Linked DNA regions of Homo sapiens. The protein of the gene in region 3 purifies or fractionates together with the protein of the main gene of each other region. This does not show direct contact. Each region holds a gene or a part of one and is shown on either strand. Other genes may lie near its edges.

Region 1 (4,215 bases), on a different chromosome or scaffold from region 3:
TCTTACAACCATGTTGATAAAACTGGTTCATATTTAGAAGAGTAGTTATCTGTGCTATGAGTTTGGTTGGTTTTTTGGCCACAAATTGACTAAATTTCTTCATGAATTTGGAAGTCTCTTATATCACAGAACCTGAAGAAAAGTACTTGAAATGTTTTAAATTTTGAATCAGTTTTTTTTTGTTGTTTTTTTGGGGTTTTTTTGGAAGACTTGAGTTTCGCTCTGCCACCCAGGCTGGAGTGTGGTGGCACAGTTTCGGCTCACTGCAACCTCTCCCTCCTGGGTTCAAGCGAGTCTCCTGCCTCAGCCTCCTGAGTAGCTGGGACTACAGGCGTATGCCACCATGCCTGGCTAATTTTTTTGTATTTTCAGGAGAGACAGAGTTTCACCATGTTGGCCAGGCTGGTCTCAAACTCCTGACCTCGGGTGATCTGCCCGTCTTGGCCTCCCAGAGTTCTGGGATTACAGGTGTGAGCCACCACGCCTGGCCTGAATCAAATTATCTTTGATATCATTAGAGGTCTTACATTCTACTGGCAGTTGTTTGAGTGCTAAATTGAAGATCTTTTACTTTTTATAAAATGCCTCTTTAGTCTTACTTTCTACCAGTTTCTAAAACTACAATAAATTTTTTAACCAACTCTCCACCTAAAAGTGTTTTCTTTTTTGTATACAAATCAAACTTTGATAGACAAGCTTAGTTGCTGTTAAAAAATGGATTAAAATTTTTTTACCGTGTTAAAGGGCATAAACTTTGAGCTATAATCTGAATAAATTCCAGAGATCCAGTATACAGCATGACTATAATACTGTATACTTGAAATTTGTTAAGAGACTGGATCTTCAGTGTTCTCACCAAAAACAAATAAATATGTGAGATGGATAGTTATTAATATGATGGGTGAGAATCATTTCATTATGTGAGGTGCAGTAAAGTGAAACACAATAAAATGAGGTATGCCTGAGGTCAGGCACGGTGACTCACACCTTTAATCCCAGCACTTTGGGAGGCTGAGGCGGGTGGACCACCTGAGGTCGGGAGTTGGAGACCAGCCTGACTAACATGGAGAAACCCCATCTCTACTAAAAATACAAAATTAGCCAGGTGTGGTGACACATGCCTGTAATCCCAGCTACCTGGGAGACTGACGCAGGACAATTGCTTGAACCTGGGAGGCAGAGGTTACGGTGAGCCAAGATTGCGCCACTGCACTCCAACCTCGGCAACAAAAGCGAAACTCCGTCTCAAAAAACGATATGCCTGTATGTTAAAACATCGCATTGTACACCATATACATATATGTATATATATAGTTTGTCAGTCATGCGTCAAGTTTTGTTGTTGCTGGACAGTAATTCTGATTTTAGGTGGGTGATTTTAAATTTTTTTTTTTTGACTAAGGAAACTTCTTATCAAATTAACTATTTGCAAATGTGTTCTTTTTAAATGATACGTGCGTGTGTGTGTGTATATATATATAAAACTCGTTTTCCACTTGCAACAAATTACAGTTGTCATTTAACTGACAACTGTTAAATGACAATTTGAAAAGCAAGATACTGCTTTTCATTCTTTACTGTTTTGGTTGTAAGTACTAGCTTTGGTCACTACTGTACATATGGAAACTAAATTTATTTTTAAATCTAGCCTTGGTACTTGATTCTGCATCAGTAGTAAGCCTTTATTTTAAAATTAAAACTTGTCCATGCTACTTTTAAAAATGAAAATAATTAGGGACCAGGTGCAGTGGCTCATGCTTGGAATCCTAGTGCTTTGGGAGGCCGAGGTGGGAGGATTTCTTGGACAACATAGTAAGATCCTGTGCCCCCCCCAAAATTATTTTAATTTTAAAAAAGGAAAGTAATGAATGTAATTATATTAAAATATTTTGATTTACGTTGAAGTATCACTGTAGCTTACCTGCATATTTTTGAAAAACATAGTACATCAGTGTGTAGAAAAAAATTATTTGAACTAAATCAGTTTGTTGACAATGGTGTATTTATATACAATGACTAAATCAGTGGTGTATTTATGTGTAATACTAGAAACTGCACATGTCAACAACCCCACTACAACCTGATAATAAATATCTTACATGATGTGACAGTTAACGTAAAGTGTAGTCTTACCAAAGTAACGAAATGTTTAATGGGAACATATTTTAAAATGCATCAATACTTAAAATAATTAATTGTAGTAGTCATAGTATGTCAGTTTTTAATAATCTTGGGAGTGGCTACTATATTGTACGGTGCAGGTCTTATTGTCATTTTCTCGACTTTGGCAGAAATTGATAAAGAAGGTGTGATTGAACCAGACACTGATGCTCCTCAAGAAATGGGAGATGAAAATGCGGAGGTAAGTTCGGTGACTTGATTTCCTGCTTGTTCTAAGAAATGTGAAAGGTCCTGCTGTTGCAATGATTTTATGACACGATTCTTCCAGGAAAAGCGCATAGTAAATCTTTCTCTGACTTCAGGCGTTTTAGGCAAGCATTGTATTTTACTACTTAAAATACTAATGAAAATAAATACTGTTACTTTCTGTTTTATCTGTTTTTTAAGTTTGCATCTGGTGTGACTGCTTGCACTGTAACGCAGAATTCACTTAAAATACATACCTATTAGTGGAGTTGCTCTTGATGGAATATCTAATGCCAAATTGTATTACAGAATGGTTTGTCATAACAGGCCCTCAAGGGAGTGAAAATTGGTTCTTGGGAGGAGGGCTTAAAAAAAATTCTATATATTACAATGGTTAGTGGTCCTCCAAAGACTCATAGAATATTAATATGTAGTGTATCTGTGGTATTAAAATTGGGGATATGGAAATGAGGAAAAGATGTCTAAAAAGGCTCCTTAGTGTCTGATAAAAATTTGAGAAACACTCTAATATAGTAATAGCAGTTTTAAAAGATTGGTTTTTATCCTCAAAACTTGATATTATCAGATTTCATCTTTGCCAAGTATTGTGGGAAATGGTATCTTTTTGTGGCTTTTAATTTGCATTTTCCTGGCCAGACAGGGTGGCTCACGCCTGTAATCCCAGCACTTTGGGAGGCCGAGGTGGGTGGATCATCTAAGGTCAGGAGTTTGAGACCAGCCTGGCCAACATGGTGAAACCCCGTCTCTACTAATAATACAAAAATAAGCCAGGCATGATGGTGCACGCCTGTAATCCCAGCTACTTGGGAGGCTGAGGCAGGAGAATCACTTGAACCCAGGAGGCAGAGGTTGCAGTGAGGTGAGATCGCACCCCTGCACTCCAGCCTGAGCGACAGAGCAAAACTCTATTTAAAAAAAAAAAAAAAAATGCATTTTCCTGATTCCTAATGAGGCTGAGCATATTTAAATGTTTATTGGCTGTTCACTGGCATTTGCGAACTCCTGTTTAAACTTTTTCCACTTTTTGCTGGATCTTTTTCTTACTGCTTTGTATTTCATTTCAATATTCTGGATGCTAATAATTTGTTGCTAGTGCTGCATATATTTTCTGCTAGTTTGTGACTCATCTTCACTCATCTTTCTTCATGTTGTTTCAAAAATAGTATCTTTTAATGCAGATATTTTCTGCTTTATTACTTTGAGGTTATAATTGCTGTAGTGCATTGCTTTTTCTCTTCTGAACATTTTATACACTCACCTTTCACCTTTAATCTACCGGTCCCACCAAAACTAAAATACACTGTTTCTGAATATTGTGGGTCTGTTTCAGGAGTTTATTGTTCTGCTTGTCTATTTTTTTTCTGTTCACTAATGCCACATCGTCTGATACTAAGTCTTGTTATTTTGTAGAACAAGGACCCCCAAAACTTTTTAGTCTTTTGGCTGTTCTTGGCTTTTTGTTTTTCCAAGTAAATTTTAGAAATAGGTTGATCAAGTCTCCCCGCTTCCATTGGTTTTTTTCCCCTTTGTTAGAATTGTGTTAAATCTAAATCAAGTTCGGGAAAAGATATATCTCCTCACCATTGAGATAAACTATCCATAAATAATGTTATCTGCCCAATTTTTAGGTGTTTTTAAAATATTTTAATAACTTACTAACGTGTTCCCCATAAGTCTTGTGCTTTGTTTTTTTGAGACAGTGTCTCACTCTTCCATCCAGGCTGGAGTGTAGTGGTACAATCATAGCTCACTGCGCCCTTGACGCCCTGGGCTCAAGTGATCCTCCCACCTCAGCCTCCTGACCAGCTGGGACTATAGTCATGCACC
Region 2 (4,215 bases), on a different chromosome or scaffold from region 3:
AAAAATGTGTGACTTGGAAAGTTAAAGTTTCTTATATAGTCCTATCCCCTAACAATTATTATTATTATTATTTTTTGAGACAGAGTCTAGCTCTGTTGCCCAGGCTGGAGTAAAGTGGTGTGATCTTGGCTCATCGCAAGCTCCGCCTCCCAGATTCAAGCGGTTCTCCTGCCTTAATCTCCCAAGTAGCTGGGTAGCTGGGACTACTGGCACCTGCCACCATGCTCAGCTAATTTTTGTATTTTTAATAGAGACAGGATGTTGCCATGTTGGCCAGGCTGGTCTTGAACTCCTGGCCTCAGGTGATCTGCCCACCTTGGCCTCCCAAAGTGCTGGGATTACAGGCATGAACCACCACGCCCAGCACCCCTTGTCAAAAACAAAATTTCTGACAGTCTGGTATATATTCCACCAGCTTCTTTGTCTTTTAAAAATTTTTTAAATTTATGAGACAGAGTCTCCCTCTGTTGCCCAGGCTGGGGTGCAGTGGTGCGATCATGGCTCACTGCAGCATCAACCTCCTGGGCTCAAGCGATCCTCTCACCTCAGCCTCCCTAGTAGCTAGGACTACAGACGTGTGCCACCACAGCCAGCTAGTTTTTGTATTTTTTGTAGCGAGAGGGTCTCCCTATGTTGCCCAGGCTGGTCTTGAGCTCCTGGGCTCAAGCAATCCTCTTGCCATGGCCTCTCAAAGTGCTGGGATGACAGGCGTGAGCCACTGCACCTGGCCACCAGCTTTTTTTTCTATGTGCATATACAGCTTGTGTCTTGTGTGTATGTGTGTTGTTGCTGGGGTTTTGTTTTGTTTTGTTTTGTTTTTTGAGACGGAGTCTTGCTCTGCTGCCCAGGCTGGAGTGCAGCGGTGAGATCTTGGCTTCCCAAGTAGCTGGGATTACACCTGCATGCTACCATGCCCAGCTAACTTTTGTATTTTTAGTAGAGATGGGGTTTCGCCACGTTGGTCAGGCTGGTCTAGAACTCCTGACCTCAGGTGATCCACCTGCCTTGGCCTCCCAAAATGCTGGGATTACAGCTGTGAGCCACCGTACCCGGCCTGTTGCTGCTTTTTATACTGACATATGGTCCTACATTTTGATGTCTCCTATTTTGATTTTTTCCCAAGAGTATTCAACTGGAGGCTTTCTTACCATCCGAGCTCAAATTCAGGTTAACTCAGTGACCAAGACTAAGTGGGAAGGAAGGTGAGTCTCCAGGGACTCAGAAGCCTGAAGGTTTCAGGTTGACATGAGTCAGAAGCCATGGTAGAGGGTGCCATGCTAGAAACCCAGATTAGCCCTGGAAGAGAAGAGACCTCACCCAAGAGATCCCAGGATGGGGCGGGAGCCGACGCCACATAGAACAGGCTGCCGCATGATCCAGGAGGCACACCTGGGCAGACACACCCAGGCAGGTTGTGCGTGGTGAGCTGCTGTCCCAGGGAGCTGCCTGAGCCACTGCCTGGAAGGTTTCTGCTGAGTTGGGTGCACAAGCCAGGTCACACCCAGCATCGGTGCTTGGGAACAGGCCCCTGTGCCAGGACAGAGCCCTAAGACATCCAGGAGAACAAGGGCTGGCTGGTGATCTAGGTCAGGCCCCGCATGCCAGCCTCAAAGCACAGCAAACGCAGCCGTCAGCACTCTGCTTTCGGGGGCCCGCTCGCGTCTGGACATGCCACAGGTTGTAATATTTCATGGCCAATCATTCCAACAAAGCATAAAGAGAATAAAAGGAAAGGACTCTATGGAGATGCTGGTCAGAATACTAGGCCTCTGTGTCATGAGAAGCCTTCTAGAGAAGGAGAACCTTGCTGAGCAGCCAAGGGACATGGAGCTGTCCAGTAGCCATGTGGGTTATGGGCAAGATGGCAGACAGTGAAGCGCTCCTCAGCCACAGGTGTACATCCCGGGACTCCCCAGTAACCACCTGGCTGCATGACCAAGTGGCTTACTGTTCCCAAATCCCAGTTTCCTTGCCTGTTAAGTGGAAGTATTAATAATACAAATAGTAGCTACCTACAATAGAATGAAACAACGGTGCCTGCTACACAACAAACACTCACATCCTGCCTGTTACCATGCTGACTTGTTGAGGTCACCCCAAAAAGACAGAACTCCCTCAGGCGCACGGAGACATCAGGCCTTTGGGGCATTCCTCCTGGCCACAGCCAGGACCACACCAGCCACAATGTGGTCTGTGCTCAGGACAACAGTGACAGCATTGTTCTAGCACACAAGGGCAGTTTCTCTCTCCTGGACAGGGTGCTGGGTGGGTAGGGGTCAGGCCAAAGGTTAAAGAAATGCAATAATCAGTCTCTGCAGTTATGAGCGCCCCCAGACATCTCCATTTCCTGCCTCTTCCAGGCCTTAGAAAGGGATCCTGCCATTTGTCTTGTAGAGTCTTTGGCTCCCACCTGAGGAAGGAGATGGGATCAGGTGGGAGGCTCCGAAGGTTTCCTGGCTCAGCTCTGTGGGTGGAGAGAGCTGTAGCCCCTCCTAGTCAGCCCTGGGTCTCATGGATCACCCATCAAAGAGGGCTGGAGCTACGCTTTCTAAGGGAACCACAAGTCGGTGCCCCTGGGACTTGTGCCACTGCCCCAGCCCCTCTGCCGCCAACTCACCCTGGTCGATGGAGTGCGGAGGCAGCTGGCTGAGCTGGCTGTTGACCACCCCTGCATAGGTGCGCAGGAACTCCTCCTCGCTGGCTGTCAGCTGCAGGGTGAGAGAGCTGTGGTGAGGGGCAGCATGCACCTGTTCCCTGAAAGGCACCTGCACCCCTAGAGGCACCGCCTAGGCCTGCTTGGTCCCTGCTTGGTCCCTGCTCGGGCTTCTGTTTCTGAGATTTGACCCCTTTGCTTTCAGGGCCAGCCCACCCCACTCCCACCCTCCTTAAACTTGGTCCAGGGGTCCAAAGCCTTTGCCACTCAGACTGAATCTGAGATTAAGGTCTGTTCTAGTATAGGGCCAGTGGAAGACACAAGTCCTGCCCGGAAGGCTGAGGGGCGATTCCATGTCCCTCCACTCTTTTTGAGAAATACCCCTGCACATGCATGCCTGCTGCCCCCTCAGCTCCTGTCCTGACAAGTTGTCCCTGAGCTGCCCCCTGGGAGAGAAGACTTTCGGGCTTGTGAGGGGGAGAAAAGGAAGGTCAGGGCCTTGAGACCCTCACCCGCCTGGCCCCAATCCGGCAGTGTCGGGTGTCCCCAGAACTTGACGTGCTGGGCTCTGTGCCTAGGGGGCCAGAAGCAGCCCTAGAGCCAAGCCACAGGCCCAGCGGCCCCTCCTCAGCCCGTGGCTCCGCAGGAGGCAGCCGCAGTGGCTCCACCCTCCAATAGCCCAGCAGGGCCCCTCCCTGGGAGACCCTCCCTGGGGGCCCGCTGCCTGACACCCCACAGGCACTCACGTTTGATCCCATCTTCCGCAGCATGAGCAGCACTCGGACCTTCTGCTGAATGTACATCTCCTCCGGACTCTTCCCGGGAGCTCCCTCGCGGTTCATCCCCCTGCCTGGCTCTGGGGACTCCTGCAGAGCAAGCAACAGCATCAAAAGGGAAGAGATCAGGATGTGACATACTGGGACAATGACACCTGCTAGTGACCCTCACTCCTCCCAGGAGCCGCTTTCCACCCACAGTCTCCCTTCTGGGAGCATGGGGCAGGTGGCGAGGTGCTGGGTTCCTTTCTCACCCATGCTGGTCCCAGCAGGCTGAACTGAGCAGCTCTGTTCTCCAGCAGGCGCTGCAAGGGCTGGCCTGCCTGCTGCCTCTGTGCATGAAGCTGCTGCGTCCAGGAAAACTGAGATGACCTGGACTGCTGGTTGTTTCTACCTGTGAATCACCCCAGAGCAAAGCTCCTGCTACAAGCCACAGGACACGTGGTGCATGAAGCCCCAAATGTCCCAGGTTTTCAGAACAACTTCCACAAGGGGCAAAAAAGTGATGGGATCAGAGGCAACTGGTTAGGGCCTTTGGCTCGAGAAACTGTGAGATCAGTGCCCAGCCCCCAAACACTGAGACAGCTCCCTCGGCAAAAGCCCCTGACAAGTTTAAGAGGCCAGGGTTGTGGCTCCTGGGCTGGGCTCCAAGGGGTCCCTTGATGGAAAGACGCTGGCCCAGGGTTGCAGGGCTTGCTACCTCAGCCCTCACAAACCCACCCCACCTGTCAGAGGGTAGCTCCTGCAGGCAGCTGGGAAGGCCAGCAGCGTGTCCACATGCAGCAG
Region 3 (4,713 bases):
AAGTAGTTTAGAAAGATAAGAAAGCTGTGGCCAGGCACGGTGGCTCACGCCTGTAATCCCAACACTTTGGGAGGCCAAGGCAGGCTGATCATGTCAGGGGTTTGATAATAGCCTGGCCAACATGGTGAAACCCTGTCTCTACTAAAAACACAAAAATTAGCCAGGTATGGGGGCATGCACCTGTAGCCCCAGCTACTCGGGAGGCTGAGGCAGGAGAATCGCTTGAACCCGGGAGGCGGAGGTTGCAGTGAGCCTAGGCTGCGCCATTGCACTCCAGCCTGGGCAACAGAGCAAGACTCTGTCTCAAAAAAAAAACAAAGAAAGAAAGAAAGAAAGCAAGCTGTCAACATAAACATAAATACCATGTGTCCGTTCTAAACTCTCAAAACTAGAGAAAAAAGGTAGGATGAAAAAAATACCCAACCTATTTTCTTTTTCAAAAACCAGAGGTGGCAAATCTTAAGAAATAAGTCCAAAGGGATTCCCATCCTTTTTGTAGAAAATGTGCTGTATTAGATACTGTCTGAAATGAGAGAGGCATTGGATTAGGCCTGGAAATCTCTCAGGCATAAATCAATTACTACGGTATTTTGAGAGACATGTTTTGAAAGAGCAAGATATCTGAAGCCATTTGGAGTCATTCATTCCACAGATGTTTATTACAGGCCTGCACGTGCCAGGCACTGTCCACACACCTGCCCTCCATTCAAGCTCTGCCTCTCACCTGCTGTGCAATCCAGGCTAAAGCACTTTAACATTTCCATGCCTCAGTTTCTTCATCTGTAAAAACAGGTAATAAAAAGTAATTAAGAGATCAACCATACAAGATCTCTCTGAAAGGTAAAGGAGTATGTCTGGAAGCACTTTGTAAGCCATGAAAATGCTAGGGGTCATCCGACTAAACTGAATTCACAAATGACACTAATGCCTGTTGTGTCATAAATTATTAATATATCAGAGGAACATGAGCCTTCTTGCTTCAAGAGACACTTCATAATCCTATTAAATAAGGCTTATCGGCTCACTTAATCATCTCTCTGAAAAGTTAAATATATGAGAGAGAGATAAGGGAGGGGGGCACAGAAAGGGAGTGAGGGAGTCAGAAAGCTAGTCTGATGTGCAGATTTTGACATTACATTCATAGTCACAATAACAAGAATCATGTCTATCTTAGTCACCACATTGGGTCTCTAATGGTGCACATTTGAAGAGGGCATGTTATTCTGAAAAAATATTCTCTGCATATCTGCAAATCACAAAAGGTACACCTATGAGGCTGACCTACCAATTCAATGTTTCCAAGAGCAAATAGCAGTAAAATTACAAAACGTTATTTGTTATGTTGATGTGTGCAAACAAAAATGTTCTATTTTATAGTACATTTCAAGTTCAATCTGACCCTCATATCTAAACTATGTCATATAAATAATGTCATATAAACAGTGTCGAACAGATCAGGAACAAAGCTCTTTTCAAAAACAAAAGTAGGCTCCATGCAGTGGCAGTTAAAGAAGGGGAAGTTCTGGTGTCTCCAGAGTTAGCCGATGGGCACAACGGCAGTTGAAAGAGACCATGTTACACAAGTCATTCAGGTTCTGGCCAACATCTGCTTTGAACAGGTCGCATTCCCAGGAGCTCCAGGCTCCCTTACCCCAGGGAAATGCTGGGGTGGTGGCTTGTCTTACAGAAGTGGTAGCCAAGGGGACCAGAAGGCACACCCGGTGCTAAAACATGCCTAAAACTTCCTCTAATGTTTACAGCTCTTCCAATGACATTTGGGGAACTAAAGTATGGATAGCCTCTTCATTGCTAGAACCGCTATAATATGATAAGTTAAGAATTTGATTTAATATTTATAAAGAACTTAGAAAGAGCCCAGCGCATAGTAAGGGCTATGTAAGTGTTTGGTAAATAAAAAAAGGCACCTCCCAGATTGGCTGGGTGAAGTCTCAATCTGGTGAGAAGGGAGAGAATCAAAATACACAACAGTCTATTTTTCACTTTGACAAAAGATTTAGAAATTACAGTGCTCTGTATTTATTTTGCACCCAAGTGCACACTAAGTAGTCTCTGGTGCAGGACTGAAATTCTACTCATGGTTCAGAAGTCACTGTGCACAACTCAATGAAAGCGTTTTAAGTTTCAAGAGATGATTCCTTTCTCTTTTCTCTTTCCAAGTAACGATGACTAAAAATGACAGAATCTAAAAATCTCAAAGCACTTCTTGTGGGTACATTCCAAAGCTAAAACTGTGAGAATTAATAGGGCCAGATTCACTTGAAGAGACGTAAGGGTTCAAATTACAGAGAACTTAAAAGACGCAACGTATTAAGGTCTTTTACTACAGATCCGCTGACAACAGGTTAAACGATTCCATCCACCCCACTCTGGCGGCTGCCCCCTCCCCGACCCTCGCAGGTGACCTGCACCCACTTTCGACCTCAGATAGGGTCTCCCTGCTCGGCGTTCCCAGTTCCTCCAGGCTCGGCGGCTGCGTGGGGGTTAACAAGGTCCAGCCACCGACGCCCCTTGGGCGTTTAGGAATCTCGAGGCAGGATCTGAATTCACCTCGTGGAAACAAAGACCACAAACTCTCCGGGAGCCGGGGGCTGGGCGGAGGTACGGCTTTTTCCGAGGACAGGCAGCGGCCGAGGCCCGGGCAGCCCTCGCCCCGCCCCGTCTCCTCCCGCCCCGGGCCGCCGTCGGAGTCCCGGGCGCGCGGACCCTCCCGCCGGCCCCGCACCTACCTGGCCCCGCGGTGCTGCTCCCGGCGCGGCGGGCGCGGAGCCGAACGCACTGCGCTTCCTCCTTCCCGGCAGGGCCGCCGGGCGCCGGCGTTTCCTCCTTGACGCGTCACGGCCGCTGGCGGCTCCTCCCGCGGAGCGCGCGGGAGGCCGAGGACAGCCGGGGAAGGCGCCGGATCCCAGCAGAGCGGCGCGAGCGGCGGGCCGGGGGCAGCCCGTGCGGGGAGGGGCTGCAGGCTGCGTCCCGCTCAGGCCTCCGAGGAAACCCGCGCTCCTCTCTCTTCCCCGAGGACCCCCGCGAAAGGCCGGGCCACGGTGCACCGTCTGCCCCCGTCACGCGCTGTGCAAAGTTCAAGAGGACACAGTGGGTCCTGTCTGGAGTCACAGACTCTGGTGTTTCCCTCTGCTCCGCCCGCAGTGGCCGCTACCCTGGGGCCCAAGACCGGCGCGGGCCAGAGCGCCGGGGCCCAACAGAGATGACCTGGTGTGTGCAGGGATCAGGACCCCCCGGGTGGGCCCGTGGTGTTGGGGGGGTTGGCTTGGTGTAAACTGGAAACTCAGAGGAGTGAATTAAATATCCAAATAATTGAGAACAACTGTGATTCATTTAGCATTATTTGGACAGTTTTCCACTTTTGTCATTAGCAGAGTTACGGCCCTTGTGTTTATAAACAGTCGAGAACTTTCACAAATTGGCAGATCCTGTGTGCAGAGAAATTTCCTTTCCACACATCTTTTTAGATCTACTGACTCTTTTTTTTATTCCCATTAATCTCCAAGTCAGCTGAGTGCACACTTTACAGCTCCTTATTACTCATTCTTGAATTACAGAAGCTGCGTTTTAGATCTGTTTATCTCTTTTAACAGATAGAGAAGCTGAGTGGAGAACTAAGAATTACATGGTTCAATGGATGTGGAGTCAAGTGGTTAAGATTTTGAAGTAGAGTGGGTTGTTTTCTTCGTCCCACAACACTACTGTAATTTAGGTCTTATCAGATATCACTTGAAGATAGACTCAGACAAGTACTTAAAGATTCCCATGTGCATATCATGCCTTAGATTTTGAGACAATGATTTGTACTTTAGATCATATGATTCCAGAGAATTTGCCACAAATCTATGAACAAATAAACTGCCAAAGGTTATTAGAGGAACTGGGATCTATGTGTGACTTCCCTAAATTCAGAAGACATTTCCTCATGTTTTAAAATGATATTCAAAGATTTAGCCCCACAAGTATGGGTTAGGACATTCATTTTTAATGTCAATAACCACAATGTGGCCTCTCTTTAAAAAGTGGATTGTGAATCCAAATACTTTTTGTACTTCAGTAATCCTACAGAACTTTCTAAACAGTAGTTTTCAGAAATGAATATAAGAATGCAGTAGATACAAAACAATACATTGCCGGTGGTCCTTTATATGTTTTACTGTGGTCCACAAAGCAATCCACATACATTAGAGGAGTTCTTCCCTTGTAACAAAATCAACAAGTGATGAGTGTATCTCTTAATTAAAGCCATATTCACAGTGCTGAAGATTTCTCAGACAAAAGGAAGTTCTGTGTCAATAAACTCCAAGTGGAATAACATCATTCTCACTTTAGAGACAAATACCTGGCTATCACCACATCTTGACTTTTTAAAAAAATAAACATCTGGGAACCATTACATTTCTAGATAAATTTGTCCTATTGTGAAGAACACACACACACACACACACACACACACACACACACACACACACAGAGATCACCTCCCACAAACATTTTATGTATTTTCTTTTTTTTTTTGAGACGAGACGGTCTCACTGTGTTGCCCAGGCTGGGTTCATTTGATCAACAGACAACATGTTAGGCATTTTGCCTTTACAATCTGAGAGCTGCAATTTAATAGCTAGATTTTGCAAAAAGCTAGAGGAGGTAAATATATTCACAAACTACTAAGGACTTTTTCACTGTAATTAAATT
Region 4 (4,215 bases), on a different chromosome or scaffold from region 3:
ATGGTTTGGGAATTTTCATCTAGTCAAATGCTTAATAAAGGTACTTCTATTCATTCATCCAAATATTTATAAATGCCTAATATATGCCAGGAAATAAGAGCTGGAAAGAAAAGTGAGCAAGACCAACATGGCCTCTGCTTTCAAAGAGCTTTTAGTCAAGTGTGGAAATTATATGTGTAAAAAAACATTTTTTATGATAAAAGCACAGAGTGGGTTTGCCTAAACTAGTGTAAGTGATGCTCAAACTAATACTTGAAGCAGGAGTCAGCAACCTTTTCCTGTAAAAGATCAGATAGTAAATAAGTTAGGCTTCTGGGTCATATGGTTTTGCTGCAATTGTTCCACTCTGCCATTGTACTATGAAAACTGCCACAGATATTACATGAATGAGTGTGGATGTGTTCCAAAAAAACTTCACTTACTAAAAGAGGTAGTGGGCTGGATTTGTTTTGTAAGCCATGGTTGATCCCTGACCTAAAGGCAAAGCAGGAGTTACTGGAGAACAAAATATGCTCCAGGTAAAGGGAACAAACAGTATGTGCTAAAAACTGGGAAGGGAATAAGAGGCTTCTTGTTGGTCCTAACAGATGTTCAATATTGATGAAGAGAAAGACTGTACTATATCCCTAGCACTTAACACAGGGTTTGGGAAATAGGAAACAATCCATAAACATCTGTTAATCAACTACAGCTGAAATACAAGGGTGAAAAAAGGGAAGGCATGGAAGCAGCAAGGGACAGGTCACTAATCTTACAAGCCATGCTAAGGCAATGGAACTCACTAGACAATCTCTGAGGCAGTGGGAAATCAATGAAGAGTTTTGAAATTTCCTTTTAAAAAGGATTATACTAACCATAGTGTGGAAAACAGATTAGAGAGGATATAAGCAGAAAAAATACAAACTGTGGCAGTTTTCCAGGTGAGAGCTGCTAATAGCTTGGACTATGGTAGTAGCAGCAGGGAAGTAAAAAGTGAATGGACTTGACAGATGTTACAGACTTAGCATCACTAATACTTTGTGACTGGTTAGATGTGTGAGGGGAAGGAAAGAAGAGCTGAGGATGGCCCCCAGCCTGCTAAGCTGGACAGTCACATGGATGCTGCACTCATCATTCATCCTAGGAACATGTGAGGAGAAGCATGGGACAGAGAAACCGATTTTGGAAATGCTAAAGTTTGAGGTATCTTTAATACTTGTGCCTGGAGCTTAGTGAAAAGGGCTAAAGATAATGACTCAAAAGTCCTGCAGCATACTATAAAAATAGTTGGGATCACCCAAAGTTACAATAAAATTAGAACAAGAGGGCATTATGAGAGAAAGAGAAGCCTGCCAAGGAGATTGAGAGAGAGTTGCCAAAAAGGTGAGAGGAACATCAGCATGTGATGGAAATGAAGCCAAAGGAACAAGCCTATCAAGAAAGACAACTGAATTCGACAGTGTTAAAAGATGATAAGAATTCAAGCAAGGGTGGGTCTGAAATGTGTCTACCATATGCAGGGATACATCAGTAATTTTTAATAAAATGTTGGGGTAAAAGCTAGAATGAAGTGGAGAGGTACAGAACATAGGAAGTGAGGAAACGGAGAATGAATACAGAAGATTATATAAAGTTTGGCTGCAAAGGAAAGGAGAAAAGCTGGCAGGGCAAAGCCACAGGAGTTTTGATATTTTTAAAAGACAATTATGTTTAAATGTAGAAAGAAAAAGAAAGTGGAGAAAGGTAAGACATAAAGGATAAAGAAGAATAATCAAGACAGAACCCAAAAAGTCAGAAGAGATGAAATCCATAGCGGAAGTAGAAAGACTAATTTGATTCAGAGGAGTTTCTTCCATGATAACAAGATTGTTTCTTCCATGATAACAGCAGAAAATATGGCTGCAGATGCAGGCAGTTCATGGGACTGATGGCAAAACGTTGAGACAACTGTCACCTGACAGCTCCCATTTTTTCTGTGAAGAAGTAAACACTTGCCAAGAGTAAATAGAAAGGTAAGAGGAAAAACTGAAGTGTGAAGAAAATGGTAGGGTTTAGAAAAGATGCTAGAAGATGGTGGAGAACCTCTGACCAAAGACACATGGTAAGATTAGGTGCATTAATATTTCCAGTTCAGGTTAGTGACCATGAATTTATTAGCAGAATCAATCTAAATGATGGTAAGGATTTTTTTAGCAACACTCAGCAGCTTAGTTATCAGCAAGGTGTGGAAAAGAAGCTATCTGGCTTCAAACTGAATCCAGGTTCTGTCTGGTAATGTCACAAGTAGAGTTTACTTAAATGGTTTTATAAGGAGCCAAGGAATAATGTCAGCTCCGGATCTTAAGCTACACACGTGCGAAGATCTAGAGCAAGATTTACCTTTTAGAAGAAAAAGTAAACACTGTGCATAAGTAACAGAATTTGAAAGCTAAGGAATGGATAAGAGACTCAACCTATTCTGTCTTATAAATTGCCACTACCAATGTTTAAGGAATATAAACTTTGATTTTTAGAAGCCATGACAGAACTCAAAAGATAATCCAAAGAAGTTCAGATAAAGAGAAAATATTTAAAAATTTCAGCTAGTAAAATTGTAAAATTTTTTGTTTAATGCAATAACTGCATTTAGAAAATCTTGAAATAAAATTTAAAAGCTTGCTTATTAATACAAACAGAAGTTGCTCATTTTGTACCTTTGAAGCTGCTCCTGTAGCTGATCTGCAGTTTTCACCTTGTCCAATAAATTCTGAATTTCAGCTTTTTGGCGATTAATAATTTCCTTATATTTTGATAATTCATCTTCTGTTCTTAATCGTTCATCTTCTAGACATTTCACCTATCAAATGATCACAACCAAGTTACAAACCATGTATTCTTGTTCTTTATAAACTATTTTGTATAGTGGTTACATATGAATAATCTAAAAATTCTAAAGCACCATTAACGTGAAGAAAATATAATGCGAAGTTTACAATCCTAGCTTTTAGTCTCAGATTTCTTATGATTCAGTCATGGGAGTTTTAGCATGTCATTTCACTTTTTACTGAATCACCATCTCCTCACCTGAAAAAGAATATATCTCCTCTACCTCAAAAAACTGGCAAGAAGAACAAATAAGAAGGTGTATGAAAAACAATTTAAAATTATTAAGTGACCTCAAATTCAGGGTGGTTAAAGGACTACTTCTAAATAAATGAATGATACACATTCATATTCATATTAGAAGACATACTAATCTTACAATAAAGACTATAAACACGAAGAGGACTTAACAGATTATTGGCCATTAAAACTATCCATCTATTAAATATATCCAGGAAAAATATAGCCTTCCTGTTATTTTCTGACACAGTTCTAAGGTCCAACTATCTTTCCAATTGATTCGTTGATGAGACTGCCTTTAGATGAGAAGCCCAAGGATAAGCTATAGACACAGCAAATGTGCTGTGAAATAGTAATGTTTGGCAAACACTTCAAAGGGACTAACATGGAAGACATTTTCCTTTCAACAAAAGAAGTTGCTAGGAAATTGCTCCTCTACTCTACTGAGTTCCTTTATTATGGAACATTTCTATATTAATGTCCTTTCCCCACCACTTTAAAAATCAGAATGAATTCAAAATTTAAGATATTTACCCTTCCTCTGGATTCATGACTAAAGACTGAATTACCTTTGTTCTCAGTGTTCTTAACTCATCCATACCCTCCTTAAATGTTCTCTTCAGATCTTCTAGTTCCTTTATTTTGGCATGATGCATCTTTAAAAAAGTTTAAAAGAAACAACAAATCATAATGTGCTAAACTATATCTAAGATTTATTGCCTGTTCCTTCCAAAAGGCCTTAAAAGTAGATAGCAATAAGTTCTCACTATTTCTCTTTCTGTATTTATTATGCAACTTAGGATATATAAAGAGCAAAACTACTCACCTCTAGCTGGTCAGATTTTTCTTGCATTTGTTTTTCAAGTTCTCCTTTTGTGACTCTAAGCTTTGCATCAAGCTCATTTGATTTAATTTCTTCTGACTCCTAGTGGAAAGAAAACAAAAAAAGTGTGACAATTTTTAACCCATTTCCCGTTTGCCCTGAGAATACTCGTCTCTAATCCTAATGTAGCATCATATACATTTCTGTTACGTTAGGATAAGAGACAAGTTCTGTTTAGAAATAACTCCAAGAACAGTTTTTTTATTTTATCTTCCACTGAAAATCAGTCAGATTTGTTTCATCCTCGAGTG
Region 5 (4,215 bases), on a different chromosome or scaffold from region 3:
ACACCCCTATCAGTTCACATCCATAGCTCCATCTCACTCAGGGTAGAAGCAAAGTCCCCATGGCCAGCCCTCAAGGCCCCACCTGATATGGCCCCATCAGCCCTCTGACGTCCTTGCCTACTCTGCCTACCACTCTCTCTTACACGCCTCTGCTCCAGCCAGGTTCTGCCTCCCAGCCTTGGCAATGTCTGATTCCTCTGCCCCTGATGCATTTCCCTCTCTTTTTTATTTTCTCTGAGACAGGGTCTCATTCTGTTGTCCAGGCTGGAGGACAGTGGCGTGAACACGGCTCACTGCAGCCTTGACTTTCTGGGCTGAAGTGATCCTCCTGCCTTAGCCTCCTGAGGAGCTGGGACCACAGGGGTGAGCCACCAAACCCCACTATTTTTTTTTTTTTTTGAGACAGAGTTTCCTTCCCTCTTGCCACCCAGGCTGCAGTGCAATGGCATGATACCGGCCAAGCCTGGCTAATTTAAAAAATTTTTTTAGGCCGGGTCTGGTGGCTAACCCCTGTAATCCCAGCACTTTGGGAGACTGAGGAGGCCAGATCGCCTGAGGTTAGGAGTTCGAGACCAGCCTGGCCAACATGGTGAAACCCCATCTCTAGTAAAAATACAAAAGTTAGCTGGGCATGGTGGTGCATGCCTGTAGTCCTAGCTACTCAGGAGGCTGAAGCTGGAGAATTGCTGGAACCCTTGAGGCGGAGGTTGCAGTGAGCTGAGATCGCGCCACGGCACTCCAGCTTGGGAGACAGAGCAAGACTCCATCTCAAAAACAAAGCAGAACAAAACAAAACAAAACAAAAAAAACACAAAAATTAGCCAGGTGTCGTGGTGCATGCCTGTAATCCCAGCTATTCTCAGGAAGCTGAGGCAGGAGAATCCCTTGAACCTGGGAGGCAGAGGTTGCAGTGAGCCGAGATCGTGCCATTGCACTCCAGCCTGGGTGACAGAGCAAGACTCCGTCTCAAAAGAAAAAGAAAAAAACATTTTTTTTGTAGCGATGGAGGTCTTACCAAGTTGCCCAGGCTAGTTTTGAACTCCCGGGCTTAAGCGATCCTTCCATCTCGACCTCCTAAAATGCTGCGATTACAGGTGTGACCCAGGACCCTTTGCCATTTCCCTCTCGTAGCCACATGGCTCCCTGTTTTCTTTGCAGACTTTGCTCAAAGGTCACCTTTCCATGCAGCTTTTCTTGACTGTCCTGTTTAAAATTGCAAAATCCTGTCTCCCCCAGCCCAGTTTACCAATCCCTTTTCTTGGGGCCTTGTTTTCTCCCTAGGACCCTTCCCCTGCCACCACACGCTAGAGTTATCCTGTGACTCTATCACATTTCCTGCTCCAATCCCAGCCCTTAGAAGCATCTGGAACATTGTAGGTACTTACTAAATATTTGTTCAGGAATTAGCTTTCAACAAGCTATAACTTGGCCAAGCTACACCAGCTGACATTTATAGAACTTTTACCTCAAGCCAAGAACTATGCTAAATATTTTTAGGAGCAGTTTGGTGAATAGTTAAAGAGCTTGGGTTTTGCCTAAAGTCAAGTACTGGATCGACCACTGGCCAGCTTCTTGTTTCCTCATGTGCAAACTGGGATGATATAAATTGTTCAAAGGCTGGGCAGAGTGGCTCACACCTGTAATCCCAGCACTTTGGGAGGCTGAGGTAGGAGGATCAGTTGAGCCCAGCAGTTCTAGACTCACCTGGGTACGATGGTGAGACCTGTCTCTACAGAAAATTAAAAAATTAGCCAGGCGTGGGGACCTGTGGTCTTAGCTGCTTAGAAGGCTGAGGCGAGAGGATCGCTTGAGCTCAGGAGTTCGAGGCTGCAGTGAGCTGTGATTGCACCGCTGCACTCCAGCCTGGACAACAGAGCAAGACCTTGTCTCAACAAAAAGAAATAAATAAATAGTTTGAGTAATGTTAGTGGTTATAAAAAGGTGTGTCACAGAGACCAGCCTGGGCAACAAAGCCAGACTCTGTCGCAACAAAAAAATTTTAAAAATTAGATGGGCATGGTGGCACATGCCTGTGGTCTCAGCTACTCAGGAGGATCCCTTGAGCCTAGGAGTTGGAGGCGGTAGCGAGCTATGATGACATCATTCTCACTGCAACCTCCACCTACAAGTTTCAAGTGATTCTCCTGCCTAAGCCTCCTGAGTAGCTGGGATTACAGGCGTGTGCCACCACACCTGGCTAGTTTTTGTATTTTTGGTAGAGACGGGGTTTCACCATGTTGGCCAGGCTGGTCTCGAACTCCTGACCTCAAGCGATCCACCTGCCTTAGCCTCCTAAAGTGCTGGGATTACAGCGTGAGCCACTGCGCCTGGTCTAGGATTTCCTCTTTACAGATGAGAAAACTGCGGTGCAGAGTGTGAAGTGGGTTTTTGTCTGCAGCCTCCAGTCTCCAGTTCACAATCTCAAATCCAGTCTCTAACTTACCCCTAGTTTCTTTTTTCTTTTTTTTTTTGAGGCAGTCTCGCTCTGTCACCCAGGCTGGAGTGCAGTGGCACGATCTCAGCTCACTGCAAGCTCCTCCTCCCGGGTTTACGCCATTCTCCTGCCTCAGCCTCCCGAGTAGCTGGGACTATAGGCACCCGCCGCCACGCCTGGCTAATTTTTTGTATTTTTAGTAGAGACGGTGTTTCACTGTGTTAGCCAGGATGGTCTCAATCTCCTGACCTCGTGATCCACCCACCTTGGCCTCCCAAAGTGCTGGGATTACAGGCGTGAGCCACAGCACCCGGCTGTTTTGTTGTGTTTTGAGACAGGGTCTTGCTCTGCAGCCAAGGCTGGAGTGCAGTGGTGCCATCACGGCTCACTGCAACCTCTGCCTTCTAGGCTCAAAGGATCCTCCTACCTAAGCTTCCCAAGTATTGGGGACCACAGGTGTGTACCACCACACCCAGCTAATTTTTTGTATTTTTTTTTTGTAGAGATGGAGTTTTGCTGTGTTGCCCAGACTGGTCCTGCACTCCTGGACGCAAGCAATCCGCCCACCTTGGCCTCTCAAAGTGCTAGGATTACAGGCGTGAGCCACTGTGCCTGGCCTTACTCTGGGTTTCTTTCTAATCCTCTCAGATGCCTCCATAAAAAACAATCCTCCCCAAGCCCTAATGGATAAACTCCAAGCTCCTTAGATGACAAAAATCTTTCTAATCTTTTACCTTGACATTTGAATATGGAGGGAAGATTAAACTCTAATAATTAGAGGCTGGAAGATAATTAAAGTGTGACAATAGCACTGTGGTGCTGGAAGAGAAAAGTCCTTTTTCTTGGGACTTGCCGAAGGTGTCTGTGGGTGTGCAACTCCATTTCAAATAGTTTAGGAAGTCTGGGCGCAGTGGCTCATGCCTGTAATCCAGCACTTTGGGAGGCCAGATCACTTGAGGTCAGACCAGCCTGCCCAATATGGTGAAACCCCATCTATACTAAAAATACACACACACAAAATTAACCAGATGTGGTGGCAGGCACCTGTAATCCCAGCTACTCAGGAGGCTGAGGCAGGAGAATCCCTTGAACCCAGGAGGTGGATGTTGCAGTGAGCCAAGATCACGCCACTGTATTCCGGCCTGGGTGACAGAATGAGACTCTGTCTCAAATAAAAACAAACAAACAAAAAACCCAAATAGTTTAGGAGAACAAAAACAAAATCTATTTGTGTATGTGTATGTGCATAGATAAACCAATTACAAAACACAATCACAATTTTAAAATCAGGAATATGGCTGTTGGCCAGGTGCAGTGGCTCAGGTGTAATCCCAGCACTTTGGGAGGCTGAGGCTGGTGGATCGCTTGAGTCCGGGAGTTCGGGACCAGCCTGGGCAACATGGCGAAACTCTATCTCTACCAAAAATACAAAAATTAGCCAGCCTTATAACCCGGTCTCAAAATAAATAAATAAATAGATAGATAGCTACAAACTTAAAAATAAAAAAAGAAAAGGAATATGGTTGTTCACACGACTATTAACTTTTCTGTTTAAAAATTTTTATAATAAAAAGTTAAAAAGTATATTGAGGACCTACACATTGAAGTAAGCAGCCATGATGTATGTAAGCTAACTTCAAATGGGTCAGAAAAAAAACATTGTGTGTCTGTGAACAGAGGACGGTAGGTGTACTGGTGTCCTTTCAATTTTTCTGTAAGTTTAAGATCATTTCCAGATAAAAAGTTAAGCTGGACTCAATGGCTCATACCTGTTGCCCCAG
Region 6 (4,215 bases), on a different chromosome or scaffold from region 3:
TCACAGAAGTACTTTTTTCTTAGGTAGTATATTTAAACCTTTCAGTTATAATTATTACCACCCCCTCCACCCCCTTCCCCCCACTTAATGGTTATAAAAAGTTACATCCCTTAAGAAATATTTAGGGATAAATATGGATCAAATCCTTGAGACAAAAACCCAAACTTTATACCAAATCCTTTCATCCAAAATCTTATATTCAAATGAAGTGAGAATTCCATTAAGGAAACAATATTTTTTTTTTCAACTAATTTTTATAGTTACATCAGCCTGGGCTAATTATACAGAAAATTTATACAAATACACACAAAACCAAAAATACCAAACCAAGCAACAACAAAAAAACAACCCCCAAACCCAAAAACTCTCATTCCATAAGGTGACAAATTTTACTTCTGAGAGGTAGTACAACCAACCAAATGAATACTGTACGTGCATTAACTGAGGCACTTAAGATCACCCAACCTTTTTAATTTATAACCAAATCTCTCCTCTTCAGGATTTCAGTGCTCATGAACAAGTATTATATTAGATTAATGGTCTCAATTTATTCTGACAAAATCTTACTTTGAAGTTTAGTCATTTAGACCTTAAAGTTACAAAAATAAAGTATTTCTATCTCAGGCAAGTATTTAATTTCTTAAAAGCTAGTAAGAAATGAAAAGATCAATGTGGAGAGAAGTATGATTTCTTAAAAATGGGTACATATTTTAGTTTTTTAATTGTGAAATACATTATGACCTGTAAGAACATTGTTCTTCCTATTCTATTCAGGGTCATTTTAACATGTGAGCCTTCAGCTTCATTTTGTACACTACAAACAGGAAAACATAAACATCATGAATCAGTTTAGGCAGAGATGTGATTAAGAATTGTAAAAGATGGCTTTCATAACATACATAAAATTCCAAACACTTTGCATGTGAAAATTTTCTGAATTATTAAGCAGTAGGGTGATCTCAGTGAGACTTGGCTTCATATGAAATGTTTCCATTAAAATTTTAAGTTTGCCTTAAAACAAAAAAAAACTTGGAAAGCAAAGCTCCCAAACCAGCTAAGTTAGAAACTGCTCAGTTTCTGAATGAAAATGACACTGTTTTTTATTTTTACTCTACTGAATTGAAAGAACAGAAAAAGAACTACAGTTGGTATAGAGAACTATTAGGCCATCTATACAGACACCTGAGAACCAATTCTTCTCTACGTTTACCATCTTCTGCAGCCACTTGCTTCTGCTTTGTCATTCACTGACATTTCAACTCTTTCAGTTACTGTATCTTCAGATGCTGACTGGACATGGCTTTCTGACTGTCCTCCAGTGTAGGTGGGGGTGCTGTACTTTAAAAGGATAGATTTAAACTGCATCAGAGGTGCATCTGTGCGTACACCCATTGGGTCAAAATGAGTTCGGCTTACTCGAAAGCCTGCTTGAGATAAATAGCACAAAAACTTTTTTAACCTGCAAAAAGGAAAGGAAAGAAAAAATAATCAGGTTCTTGTATTTTTATTTAAATCACAATATTATTAAAATATAAAATATATATACTTTGTCATTCACTGGGTGTCTTACTTTGGCATATTCATTCCTTTAATGCTGTGTCTGTGAATGTTGTAATAAAAGGGAGGATGTTCAGTACTGACATCAGTCTTTTGCTTCTTGCCTAAATTTGTGATCATTTCATTACTTTTTCTCTTTCCTGCAACATACACATACAAAGTTAGCATGCTCTTAAAAATTACAAGCCAAATACTTTTATAACTATATATTTATCTCAAGTATAAATCCTGACACATTATTTCAACCTGACTATCCAATCTTAATTCTTATAATTTATTCTATTTTCACGGTCCTTCACTTATGTAATTTTCATATTAAACTGCTGAATCAGAACTTCCTTTCTACCTTCTTCAACTTCAAGCCACACTCTATTTCGTCTCCTGTAGGAAGCCATCTGTCAATCTGGGGCTAGTCACTTCATACATTTCATTGTTGTTAATACTACACTACACTACTCAGAGTTTGATTAAGTTGTCATTTTTTTTTCTTTTCTTATAGTTCCTTAATGTGTGTAAGTCCTTTCTCCCCAAGTTATATTCTAAGTTCCTAAGGACAATGTCTTTCATTTTTATACCTGTATTTCTACTGAGTGATCAGTATTGGATACACAGTGGGTCTTTAGTAATCACAAAACAAAGAAAAACAACACAAAGTCTTGAGAGTTTGGACACAGAAACTGACATAAGGTCAATGTTATGATCTCATTGCCTATTTCTCATCACAGCACTTAGTTTTTTCATTTTGAGTGAAAGGAGGCCAGCTAAGATTCTAGAACTGTATCCTTCCAAAAATCACAACATGAAAACAACTGAGATATCCAATACTATAATGAGATTTTGCCTGGTGTTCAACCCTTGATTATTTATATATGAACGTTATGGTCAAATCTTATCTCTTCAGGGAAAGTAATTAACATCTGCTTAAGCAAAATATTCAGAAGCTGCCAGGAGCAGTAGCGTACACCTGTGTAACTGGGACCCAAGTCCCAGCTACTTGGGAGGCTGAGGTGGCAGGATGGCTTGAGCCTAGGAGTTTGAGTCTAGCCTGAGCAACACAGTGAGACCCTGTCTCTTAAAAAAAAAAAAGTATTGAAAAGGCAAAGTTGATACATAAAAATAAATTACATTCAAAATAAATATAAATTATTGCTGAACTGTTGCCTCTTTACATAAAAACATAAAGCAAAAAGGACAACCTGGGATCCATCCATCAAATCAGAATTATAATTTGAAATCTAAAATTTGAAACTGCATGAAATCTAATGAGGCACCTAGTCAAAGGATAGATATCCAGATTTAGTACAAGTTCTAGGAGCATCTGAGGCAAAAAATCTGATGTAATACGTTAATAGTGAGTATCATCAGCAGTATATAGATTTTTTTTTTTGGCCTGGTAATTTCTTCTTTTTTAAAAAATAATTTCAACTTTCTTTATCGATTAAAGGGTATATGTGTAGGTTTGTTACGTGGGTATATTGTGTAATGCTGGGGTTTGGGGTCCTAACAACCCCAGCACCCATGCAGTGGGCATAGTACCCAACAGGTGGTTCTTCAGCCCAGGCCACATCCCATCCCTCCCCCATCTAGTAGTCCCCAGTGTCTATTATTCCCATCTGATGTCTGTGAGTACCCAAAGTTTAGCTCCCACTTGTAAGTTAGAACATGGGGCTTTGGTTTTCTGTTCTTGCATTAGTTTTATTAGGATAACGGCCTAGAGTGCCATCCATGTTGCTGCAAAGAGCATGATTTTGTTCTTTCTTATGGCTGCATAGTATTCCTTAGTACATATGTTCATTTTCTTTATCCAGTCCATTGATGATGGGCACCTAGGTTGATTCTGTCTTTGCTACTGTGAATAGCACTGCAATGAACATATAACGTATCTTTGACAGAATGAATTATTTTCCTTTGGGTTTGCATAGTACTATCATTTTAAGATTTTATGTGTTGACCAATGGTCTTAGAATAACCATATAATTTAAAAGTTATAGAAGAGCCCACAAAAATTAGTCTAATTTCCTTAATTTACTTATGAGAAAGGCTCACAGATTAAAAACAAATTTTTTTTTTGAGATGGAGTTTGGCTGTGTTGCCCAGGCTCACACAATCCTTACACTATCCTCCCACTTCAGCCTCCTGAGTAGCTGAGATTACAGGTGTGTGCTACTGTGCTCTTGGCTTTTGAAAATATTTTTAAAGCTTATTTATGTTTTACTTTATTCTAAAAAGGATTTAAGATAATTTTGCTGAATGGGAGGGACCTGGCTGAGTTTATATAACAACGCCTGCATAGGATAATACTCTTAAATCTAATTTTTTTTTTTTTTTTTTTTTTGAGACAGTCTCGATCTGTCACCCAGGCTGGAGTGCAGTGGTGCAATCTTGGCTAACTGCAGCCTCTGCCTCCTGGGTTCAGGCAATTCTCCCACCTCAGCCTCTCAAGTAGCTGGTATTACAGGCTTGCACTGACACACCTGGCTAATTTTTGTGTTTTTCGTAGAGACGGGGTTTCACCATGTTGGCCAGGCTGGTCTTGAACTCCTGACCTCAAGTGATCTACCCAACTTGGCCTCCCAAAATGCTGGGATTATAGGCATGAGCCACTATGCCCAGCAAATCTAATATTCTTTATAGTGTATCATAATGCTTCTTTGTCTT
Region 7 (4,215 bases), on a different chromosome or scaffold from region 3:
AACGAGGGGCAAAGGGTAAGCTCCCCAAGCACACCTGAGAACTGTGCTCTGCAAAGCACACTAATCTCCATCTCAGGGCCAGCGCCTACTCAGCTTCCAGAGGGTGGAATTTTCTTGCTGCCTCTAAAATCTTTCTTAATGTCTCATTTCCAAACTCATAATTAGACTTCAATGTGTACAACATATGTATCTAGAAATCCATCAAATTATTAGAATGTGAGAATTTTAATGAATTACAACACAGGAAACTTTTGTTGTTGAGACAGGGTCTCACTCTGTTGCCCAGTCTGGAGCGTGGTGGTGCGACCATAGCTCACTGCAGCCTGGACCTACTGGGCTCAAGGAATCCTCCCCCTAGTAGCTGGGACCACAGGCATGCACCACCACATCTGGCTAATTTAAAAAAAATTTTTATAGAGGCGAGGTCTCCCTATGTTGCCAGGGCCGGTCTCAAACTACTGGGTTCAAGTGATCCACTTGCCTTGGCCTCCCAGAAAACTTATATAAAAACATATTAGAATGGTTAAAAAGAAAAGGTGAGTGAGGATGGCTGCAGGACTTTGCGAGGATCGAAGCTGCTGCTTCAACGGCCACTGGCTGCTTGGATGCCACTCATCCTGGCCTCACCCTTAACTCAGGTGCTGCAGTTTCCTAATGGCAACAAGTTTGTCCTCACGTACAGAGTGATGCTTTTGAAGGAGAACTCGACACAAGCCTCTGGCCTTTCCATCTAAAGTTTTTGTTTGTTTTTTGAGACAGGGTCTTGTTTTATTGCCCAGGATAAAGTGCAGTGGTGCAATTATGGCTCACTGCACCTCCCAGGCTCAACTGCTCCTCCCAACTCAGCCTCCCGAGTAGCTGGGATTATAGGTGTGTGCCACCATGCCCGGCTAAATTAATTTTTTTTTTTTTAAATTTTTGTAGAGATGGGACTTCACCATGTAATCTCATGGTCTCAAAACTCCTGCGCTCAGGCAATCTACCTTGCCTTGGTCTCCCAAGGTGCTGGGATTACAGGCATGAGCCACCGTGCCTGGCCTAAAGTTTTTACGTGCATATCATTAAATGTACTTTTTCTTAAAAAGGCTAAAAGAGCATAATTTGATTAAATTAACAACTCTTTTATAATAACTTTTGAGTAGGAAACCAAACCATGTTGCTTAATGGTCAAGAAGGCTGAGCTGAACACATAGAGGAGGAGGAACATTGTGGCTCAGGGTGACACAATACAGAGAAAGGGGCACAGTGTGATGACCTGCCGCCTCTCTTGAGTCTCTCAGAACGGAAGTTTTCATAATGAAGGTCCTGGGTCACCTCCTGGAGATCCTGCATGTGGGTGCTGAAAGAGAAGAGGAATGCACCAAGGTGGCATCATGCACATGACATTCTCATGAGAAAAAAAACCACCCATCAAGTACATAGAAGAAATAGCAGTAATTAAAATTACTTGGTAAATTGTACATAAAGCTGCTGGGATTTCAGGATAATGAGTATGGCCGTGGAAATGTCTAGTGAGGTGTAGCTCTCCCTTTCTTCCCCAATAAATGATATACAAACACAGGTCTCGACTGAGTCTCTCAGGGGGATTTCTGCTAGAGGCACTGCCACCCCTGTGTGAGGCCATCACTACCACAGGATGGCAGACAGATTTTAAGAGATTTTCAGGTCAACAATGTCTGAAATAGAAGACACTCTTCTAAAAGGACTTACGGAAAATGTAATGAAAATATTCATGCCTCCTATAACTCAAAATTTATATATTACTCTCATATGAGAAAAAAGAGTTGGTTAGCTTAAGCTATGTACAAGACCATAAAGTGAAGGACTAATATTCTGGATCCAAGAATATTAGTCAGCAACTTAACCTTCCATTCATCTTATGAAGCACTCTTAAAAAATTTTTTTTAATTGCCTAGCTTATTCAAAATACTTAAAAGCAGGCAAGAATGAGCAAACATTGTAACACGTTCCTATTGATTCAGGATCCAGGGAAATGGATTGAGATAGCCAAGGAGTGGCTCACTCTACCTCATTGTGAGAAACACACAACTGACACTAAAGTAAAGTCCCCAAACCCTGTCTTCAGCCTCTACACCCCCCTCAATAATGGGGATCAGGATAGCCACAAGGATGCAGCCCTGGAGGGGCTGAGTGCGCTTAACTTCTTACACAACCATTAAATTGTGTTTGACACAGCTTGGATGGTAACATGCTTACTTATTTTAACTCACTACAAATTGCTAAACTAAGTGAGACATGCGGCAAATATGTAGCGACTTTCAGCTAATCAAAACACTGATTTATCCACATCAGTCATTCTTTGAAGTCCTCTGATTAAAGAGGTATAGTTTAAGCAATACTCTCAGCCTGTTCTTTTTGGTTTTTTTTTTTGAGATGAAGTCTTGCTCTTGTTGCCCAGGCTGGAGTGCAGTGGCGCAATCCCGGCTCACTGCAACCTCCACCTCCAGGTTCAGGCGATTCTCCTGCCTCAGCCTCCCAAGTAGCTGAGAATACCGGCACCCACCACCACACTCGGCTAATTTTTTTGTATTTTTAGTAGAGACAGGGTTTCACCATGTTGGCCAGGCTGGTTTCACCATGTCGGCCAGGCTGGTTTCACCATGTCAGCCAGGCTGGTTTCAAACTCCTGACCTCAAGTGATCCGCCCGCCTGGGCCTCCCAAAATGCCAGGAGTACAGGCATGAGCCACCGCACCCGGCCTCAGCCTCTTTTTTCAAGAGTAAAAGCAATGTATGCATGTTACAATATGTGAAATTTATTTATTTAATTTATTATTTTTTTGAGACAGAGTCTCGCTCTGTCGCCCAGGCTGGAGTGCAGTGGTGCAATCTTGGCTCACTGCAACCTCTGCCTCCTGGTTCAACAGTGATTCTCCTGCCTCAGCCTCCTGAGTAGCTGGGATTACAGGTGCGCACCACCACGCTTGGCTAATTTATTTTTTGCACTTTAAGTACAGATGGGGTTTCACCATGTTGGTCAGGCTGGTCTTGAACTCCTGACCTCGTGATCTGCCTGCCTCAGCCTCCCAAAGTGCTGGGATTACAGGTGTGAGCCACCACGCCCAGCCATGAAATTCATTTTTAAAGAAGACTATTTTTGTAGTCAGGTCTGTAATTGCTATTAATAATAAATGGAAGACACAAAAAGCTAACCAGGGCCATACAATGAGTCTCAGACTGGTGAGCAGGGCACCAGGGGTGGCTCAGCCTGGAGCAGTGGACCAGGGGCCTATACAGCCTGACTGTTTCCTTACCAGCACTGGGGACCTCTCAGACCCCAGTTTAGGTTCTAGTCTCCTTTTCTCCTTTTAACATCAAAGATGTAAGATCTTAGCAAGAAGGAAAGGTACTGCAGGCTACAGGCCACAGGCAGAAGCGCTAGTTTAGTAGTGCCACAGAGGGCCCCTGGGTGAGGGTTCTCAGCACCAATCTGCAACAGCCCCACACCACTTCTGCGATGTGAGAAACACTGAGGGCGGCAATGAAGCTGCTGGCTGCAACTATCTTGGGGGCCAAGTGTACACCCCGTCTGAAATCCATATTCTTCACGCCAAATTCTGCCAGAAGGAACACACCAAATGTCTTACATGAGCATGGTTCTCAGCTTCAGAAAGTCATTGTGCTCTGGGTTCTCCACTTCCACAACACCCCAGGGGTAGAGGCGGCCTCTGACCTTCTTTCCTTTGGCTTCAATCAACTGATTGGATCCAACCACAGAGAATGGGATGCTAGCCTAGAAAGAGACACACAGAGTAGACAGGCTCCACACAGGGAACCCCAGAGTTCACTGGCAACACGAGAACATTAGCACAGACTTAACACATTGCTGTTGACTACAAAACTGAATTGGAAAGCTGGGGGTATGTAACATTTTCTTGAAAAGTGTCAGATACTTTCTACATGGGACAAATTGTACGAAAACAAATTAAACCTACAATAAAATTTCTAAGCTTTAGGTGATAGCTGTATCAAATTTTTTTTTTTTTTGAGACAGAGTCTTGCTCTGTCGCCAGGCTAGAGTGCAGAGGCGCGATCTCGGCTCACTGCAACCTCTGCCTCCTGGGTTCAAGTGATTCTCCTGCCTTAGCCTCCCGAGTGGCTGGGACTACAGGTGTGCACCACCACATCCACCTAATTTTTGTATTTTTGATGGAGATGAGATTTCACCATGTTGGCCAGGATGGTCTGGAACTCC

What was found.
Region 1: the proteins of SGK3 (region 3) and ST13 purify together in Homo sapiens (affinity purification with mass spectrometry, with the first as the bait; one large-scale study listed by BioGRID). This does not show direct contact.
Region 2: the proteins of SGK3 (region 3) and CTNNBIP1 purify together in Homo sapiens (affinity purification with mass spectrometry, with the first as the bait; one large-scale study listed by BioGRID). This does not show direct contact.
Region 4: the proteins of SGK3 (region 3) and CCDC186 purify together in Homo sapiens (affinity purification with mass spectrometry, with the first as the bait; one large-scale study listed by BioGRID). This does not show direct contact.
Region 5: the proteins of SGK3 (region 3) and BLVRB purify together in Homo sapiens (affinity purification with mass spectrometry, with the first as the bait; one large-scale study listed by BioGRID). This does not show direct contact.
Region 6: the proteins of SGK3 (region 3) and TRMT1L purify together in Homo sapiens (affinity purification with mass spectrometry, with the first as the bait; one large-scale study listed by BioGRID). This does not show direct contact.
Region 7: the proteins of SGK3 (region 3) and SEPTIN2 purify together in Homo sapiens (affinity purification with mass spectrometry, with the first as the bait; one large-scale study listed by BioGRID). This does not show direct contact.

Annotation. Positions count from the first base shown.
Region 1 is NC_000022.11:40,842,986-40,847,200, reverse strand, and holds part of ST13 (hsc70-interacting protein), read left to right. Parts: intron 1-2,291; coding exon 2,292-2,362; intron 2,363-4,215. UniProt on the Homo sapiens protein: One HIP oligomer binds the ATPase domains of at least two HSC70 molecules dependent on activation of the HSC70 ATPase by HSP40. Stabilizes the ADP state of HSC70 that has a high affinity for substrate protein.
Region 2 is NC_000001.11:9,868,570-9,872,784, forward strand, and holds part of CTNNBIP1 (beta-catenin-interacting protein 1), read right to left. Parts: intron 3,824-4,215; exon of another isoform or gene 3,684-3,823; intron 3,520-3,683; coding exon of another isoform or gene 3,496-3,519; coding exon 3,400-3,495; intron 2,709-3,399; coding exon 2,618-2,708; intron 1-2,617. UniProt on the Homo sapiens protein: Prevents the interaction between CTNNB1 and TCF family members, and acts as a negative regulator of the Wnt signaling pathway.
Region 3 is NC_000008.11:66,710,868-66,715,580, reverse strand, and holds the start of SGK3 (serine/threonine-protein kinase Sgk3), read right to left. Parts: upstream 2,801-4,713; 5' UTR 2,748-2,800; intron 1-2,747.
Region 4 is NC_000010.11:114,132,241-114,136,455, forward strand, and holds part of CCDC186 (coiled-coil domain-containing protein 186), read right to left. Parts: intron 4,007-4,215; coding exon 3,908-4,006; intron 3,738-3,907; coding exon 3,651-3,737; intron 2,816-3,650; coding exon 2,673-2,815; intron 279-2,672; coding exon of another isoform or gene 152-278; exon of another isoform or gene 1-151.
Region 5 is NC_000019.10:40,452,095-40,456,309, forward strand, and holds part of BLVRB (flavin reductase (NADPH)), read right to left. Parts: intron 1-4,215. UniProt on the Homo sapiens protein: Enzyme that can both act as a NAD(P)H-dependent reductase and a S-nitroso-CoA-dependent nitrosyltransferase. Promotes fetal heme degradation during development.
Region 6 is NC_000001.11:185,118,813-185,123,027, forward strand, and holds part of TRMT1L (tRNA (guanine(27)-N(2))-dimethyltransferase), read right to left. Parts: intron 1,698-4,215; coding exon 1,571-1,697; intron 1,460-1,570; coding exon 1,207-1,459; 3' UTR 1-1,206. UniProt on the Homo sapiens protein: Specifically dimethylates a single guanine residue at position 27 of tRNA(Tyr) using S-adenosyl-L-methionine as donor of the methyl groups. Dimethylation at position 27 of tRNA(Tyr) is required for efficient translation of tyrosine codons.
Region 7 is NC_000002.12:241,343,290-241,347,504, reverse strand, and holds part of SEPTIN2 (septin-2), read right to left. Parts: intron 3,754-4,215; coding exon 3,608-3,753; intron 1,340-3,607; coding exon 1,256-1,339; intron 1-1,255.